2 separate regions of the Homo sapiens genome follow, and region 1 is linked to region 2. The links come from fine-mapping of genetic effects on plasma protein levels. A gene starts in region 2. The other region holds a variant in brackets. All regions are shown on one strand. Distances are from middle to middle.

What was found. PIP is the chance, under the fine-mapping model, that this variant and not a neighbour inherited with it causes the effect. The UK Biobank Pharma Proteomics Project read protein levels with antibody pairs (Olink). The fine-mapping took linkage between variants from a reference panel, not from the people measured, so its PIPs are less certain.
Region 1: its variant is fine-mapped to the plasma level of the TIMD4 protein (UK Biobank, PIP above 0.99).

The regions. Positions count from the first base shown.
Region 1 is chr5:157,019,080-157,022,003 of GRCh38, forward strand. No RefSeq gene overlaps it. Among named protein-coding and RNA genes, the nearest start is that of HAVCR1, 39 kb to the right of the region's middle. The variant C/A (reference allele first, on the strand shown) is at 1,583.
Region 2 is chr5:156,961,333-156,964,256 of GRCh38, forward strand. TIMD4 (T cell immunoglobulin and mucin domain containing 4) reads right to left here and starts at 1,894. Exons shown (of 9, transcript NM_138379.3): 1 at 1,809-1,894. The coding sequence starts at 1,866.

The sequences.
Region 1 (2,924 bases), 58 kb after region 2:
ATAACAGAAGAATATCTAGATAACCTTGGGGTTGGCAATGACTTTTTAGATACAACACTAAAGACATGATCCATGAAAGAAAAAAGTGACAAGTTGGAATTTAATAAAATTAAAAACTTCTGCTTTGCAAAAAACACCATCAGTAAAAAGACAAGCTATGGACTGGGAGAAAATATTTGCAAAGGACATATCTGATAAAACATACAAAGAACTCTTAAAACTCAACAGTAAGATAATGAACCAGCTGATTAAAAAATGGCCAAAATATCTTAATAAACATTTTTCAAGATATACAGCTGGCAAATAAGCATAAGAAATATGTTTAACATCTTATGTTATTAAGGAATGCAAATTAAAGCAACAATGACATACCAGTACATTCCAATTAGAATGGCTAACATCCAGCACTAAATGCTGGCAAGGATGTGGGGCAATAGGAACTCTCAATCATTGCTGGTGTGAATACAAAATGGCTCAGCCACCTTGAAAAACAGTGTGGCAGTTTCTTACAGAACTAAACATTCTCTTATCAGACAATGCAATAATTGTGTTCCTTGATATTTACCTAAATCAATTGAAAACTTATGTCTATACAAAAGCCTGTGTGCACATGAATGTTTATGGAAGTTTTATTCATAATTTCCAAAACTTGGAAGCAACTAAAGCAAATTAATAAACAAAAATAAGTTGTGATACATCCAGACAATGGAATATTATTTAGCAATAAGAAGAAATGAGCTGTGTAGCTATCAAAAGAATGGAGGAACCTTAAATGCATATTGTTAATTGGAAGAAATCAATCTGAAGAGGCTACATACTGTATGACCCCCAATTATATGACATTCTGAAAAAGATAGAACTATGGAGACAGTGAAAAGATCAGATCAGTGACTTTCAGGGATTTGGGGAGAGGGAAGGATGACTAGGTGGATCTATAAGATTTTTAGGGCAGCAAAACCATTTTGTATGATACTATAATGGTGGGTACATGTCATTACACATTTATCAAAACCCATAGAATGCACAACACAAAGCATGAACCTTAATGTAAACTATGAACTTCAATTGAGAATGATGTGTCAATGTTGATTCATCATTTGTAACAAATATGCCACACTGGTGGGGAAAGTTAACAGTGGTGGCAAAATCATGTGTGTGTGTATTGTGTGAGGAAGGTGTCTATGTGGGAACTCTGTACTTTCTGTTCAACTTTGCTGTTAGCCTAAAACTTTTCTAAAAATTAAAGTCCATTAAGTAATGTGTGCATCAGTCATCATCAAAGTATTTTTTAGAGCTGACCAGGTTATGCTCACCTGGAGTCCCAGCTACTCTGGAGGCTGAGGCAAGAAGATCACTTGAAGCCAGGATTTCAAGGCTGTAGTGCACTAAGATCATGCCTGTGAATAGCCGCTGCACTCAAGCCCAGGCAATATTGCAAGACCTCATTCCCAAATTTTTTTTAAGTATTTTTAGGCTCAAGCAGGTGCAGGCACTTACAGGCAGAGCAAGCCCCATCTCAGCTGTCCACAGCACAAAATAGGGGTTACCCTAGAGCATTTCCTCGCAGTCCAAAGGGGACTTT[C/A]TTATTTATTTTTACCAGTTTGTAGGGGAAACATTTAGTTCCTAGGAGGCCCAGGGACAAAGTCAGCTGAACAGCTGTGAGCCAGCTTCCTGGGAAGCTTTCCAAAAGCATGGCAACATTCAGCCTTCTTGTTCCCAGGGGTGCCACCAACATCATGCTCTTGTAGTGGGTGCTAGACATAGGACACACCTGTGGTCACCAGCCTCTTGCCATTTTTCTTACTTGGTTTTTCCCCTGCTCTAGCCTATTGTGGACATTTTCCTGTTTCATTTTGTGTCTTTTATGTCCTTCCAGAGCACTTGACACACACAACATAGAAACATGCTGTCATATCCCCTTCCCAAGTCTCTCAAGGTCAGTGGTTCTCAGTCTCAGCTACACACTCAAATCTCCTGGGGAAGGCTGGTCACAGGGCTCATGCCTGGAATCCCAGCACTTTGAAAGGCTGAGATCGGAGGATCTCTTGAGCCTACGAGTTCAAGAACAGCCTGGGCAACATAACGAGACCCAGTCTCTACAAATAAAAAAATTAGATGGGCATGGTGGTGTGCCTGTAGTCCTAGCTACTCGAAGGCAGAGACAGCAGGATTGCTTGAGCCCAGGTGTTGAGGCTGCAGTGAGCCTTGATCACACTGCTGCTCTCCAGCCTGGACAACACAGCAAGAATCTGTCTCAAAAACATAAAAAATCTGGGGAGATTGAAAAAATTATAATATCTGCGACCCCCTCCTGAAATTCTGATTTAATTGATCTAGGCATGGGTAGTTTCTCAACCTTCCCAGATGATTCTAACACGCAGCTAAGGTTGCAAATTACTGATCTCAGAAAGTCACTGAGATTCACACCGGCTCCAGCCAGTAATATAAATGGACTTGTAAAAGAGACACTCTTCCTTGCTCTATCCCATCCCTAGAGTACACAGGAAGGTTCTAAGAAACATTCTTTTATCAATTTATTTTTTATTTTTATTTATTTATTTATTTGTTTGTTTGTTTGTTTGTTTGTTTGAGACAGAGTCTCACTCTCACCCAGGATAGAGTGCAGTGTCACAATCTCGGCTCACTGCAACCTCAGCCTCCTGGGTTCAAGCGATTCTCCTGCCTCAGCCTCCTGAGACTAGCTGGGATTACAGGCATGCACCAAGACACCTGGCAAATTTTTATATTTTCAGTAGAGATGGGGTTTCACCATGTTGGTCATGCTGGTCTTGAACTTCTGACCTCAAGTGATCCACCCCATCTTAGTCTCCCAAAGTGCTGGGATTACATGGGTGAGCCGCTGCACCTGGCCCTATCCATTTATTAACTAATTTTAATAGATATATATCGAACACCTACTAAGT
Region 2 (2,924 bases):
AAAACTAAAAATAGAATTACCATATGATCCAACAATCCCACTACTGGGGATATATCCCAAAGAAAGGAAATCAATTAAAGAGATATTTACTCTCCCATGTTTATTACAGCACTATGCACGATAGCCAAGATATAGAAGCAACCTACGTGTCCATCAATGGATGAATGGATAAAGAAAATGTGGTATATGGCCAGGTGCGGTGACTCACGCCTATAAGCCCAGCACTTTGGGAGGCCGAGGTGAGTGGATCGCCTGAGGTCAGGAGTTCAAGACCAGCCTGACCAATATGGTGAAACCCCGTCTCTACTAAAAATACAAAAATTAGCCAGGCATGGTGGCAGGCGCCCATAGTCCCAGCTACTTGGGAGGCTGAGGCAGGAGAATGGCGTGGACCCAGGAGGCAGAGCTTGCAGTGAGCCGAGATAGAGATAGTGCCACTGCAGTCCGGCCTAGGCAAAAGAGCGAGACTCCGTCTCAAAAAAAAAAAAAAAAAAAAAAAAAAAAGAAAGAAAAAAAAAAAGAAAATGTGGTATATAAACACAGTAGAATATTCAGCCATAAAAAAAGAATGAAACTCAGTCATTTGCAACAACATGGATGGAAACAGAGTTTATTAATATTGTGTTAAGTTAAGCTAGGCACAGAAAGACAAATATTGCATGTTCCCACTCATACATGAGAGCTAAAAAAGTTGATCTCATGAAAGTGGAGAATAGAATGATAGTCACTGGAGTCTACAAAGGATAGGGGAAAAGGGGTATGAAGAAAGGCAGGTTAATGGGTACAAAAATACAGTTAGTTAGAACATGAGGAAAAAGGGAAAAAATACAATTAAATAGAAGGAATAAGTCCTAGTGTTTGATAGCATAGTGGGGTGCCTATTGTTATTAATAATTTCTTGTGTATTTCAAAATAACTAGAAGAGAACATTTGAAATGTTCTCAGCACAAAGAAATTTAAATGTTTCAAGAAATGAATATCCCAACTACCCTGATTCGATCATTGTACATTGTATGTATATATCAAAATAACACATATGTAGCCCATAAATATGTATAGTTATTTTGTATCCATTTAAAAAAAAAATGGACTTTTGTAAAACTGCAAGGGCCATTCAATATTATCTTGTCCTAGAAGCACAGATTGTGACAACTGGTCATTTAAAAAGCCAGGTCTCTCATTTCAAATATGGGAGAGCCAGAGCAATTTAGACATATTCCCAGTGTCAACAGTTAGTGCCCGAGACGCAGCTGCAGCTCAGGCCAGAACACTTGGCTCTATACCACCAGGATGCAAAGAACTTCACTGGCCAAAACTGAGTGTGTACACTTGCATCATCCAAAACCCAAAAACAACGTGCAGAAAAGAAACCTTACATAAAGCCTCACCCCAGCAAAACAAAACAAAAAGCAAACACTTCTAAAAACAGAGGGAATGATAAGAATTATCACAATTCTCACCAGAACAAATTCTCCTGGCTTATTGATTATATGAATAACACCCATAGAGGAAATCTCTTTTCCCCAATTTATCTGACCACTTATTTCTGTGTCTCTTCTTCAGTTGCTGTTTCCAATATAAGCCCAAATTACCCCAGCCTAAAACCCCCAGACCAGTCTCTGGATAAACCTCTGTGTAACAAGGCAGGACAGAGACCCTCCACAGAAGGAAGCCTGGTAGGGAGAGGGGAGGGATGCAGAAATGAAGTGAGCTTCTGCTTCACTGAGGCCCAAACCAGTGCATGGAAATCCATCACACAATAGCAAGTCCTCTGGAAACTTCTACATAGAAGGTTTCAGAACACTTACTCAGGTAAAGCCACCAAAACTCAATCATCAGCCAGAGAATGAGAGGTTCTTTGGACATTTTGACGGTTGACCGGACCCAGGAGTCTGTCTATCTATCCAAAGCCCAACCTCTTATATCCCAGTTAATGCTGACAGGGTGGGACTCTTTAGTTTCATTTCTCTTTTTGCCTCATAATCTTCCCTTTCTCCTGTCCTACATGGCTTCCCCCAATGGGCGATGCATGATGAAATGTGCTGAGCCCTTTTCTCCTGGTGACTAGTGTGTGTGTGGAGGGATGGCGTGGACATACTTGTGCTTCTTTGTCCATGTGTATAGTGGGTTTCCTATATGTGCACAAGCATCCATGCATGTGCTGGTGCAAATATGCCTGTATAACCTGTGCATGTGCCACAGTTGTCCCAACTGCTGTACAGCCTGTCACAAAGTGCAATTGACTCTCCATACTGGCAAGTGTTTACATGTAGATTCCTCATGGGGCCAAAGCATAGTTAGACTGAAAGTTGCCTCCATTCCCATTCTAGGTTCTCCCTCACCCTGTCCCCTGGCCTCCTTGCCCTAATAATGGAGAAAGAAAAGTGAGGACAGGCACAGTGGCTCACACCTGTAATCCTAGCACTTAGGGAGGCCGAGATGGGAGGATCGCTTGAGGCCAGGAGTTTGAGACCAGCCTGATCAACATGGCGAAACCCCATCTCAATTTTTTATTTAAAAAAAAGTTTAATAAAAAAATTAAATTTTTTTTTAAGTTTTAGGAAGACACTGAAGCCCAGAACTTCCTGATTCCAAAGCTTATGGTTAATCACTACATTGTCCTTTGACCTGTGACCGTTTGGGTAATGTATCCATATGATGAGGCCTACCTGTGGCTAGCTCCTACTTAGTACCAGGAAGAAAATATAAGAATTCACAAATGTTCTAGATTTTTAAAAATCCTTAATTGATTGTAAACAGCCAGCAAACCTCAAACATTCAACATTGCTTCTACTGAAGGTATCAGTGAAAAATCTAAATATCAGGTGAGGTTCTAGACCCAGAGAAGCCAGACTAACATGAGCAGGGATGAAAATAACGGGATTCAGAGTGAATCTTCCCACTGAATGCCCACAGAACCAAGG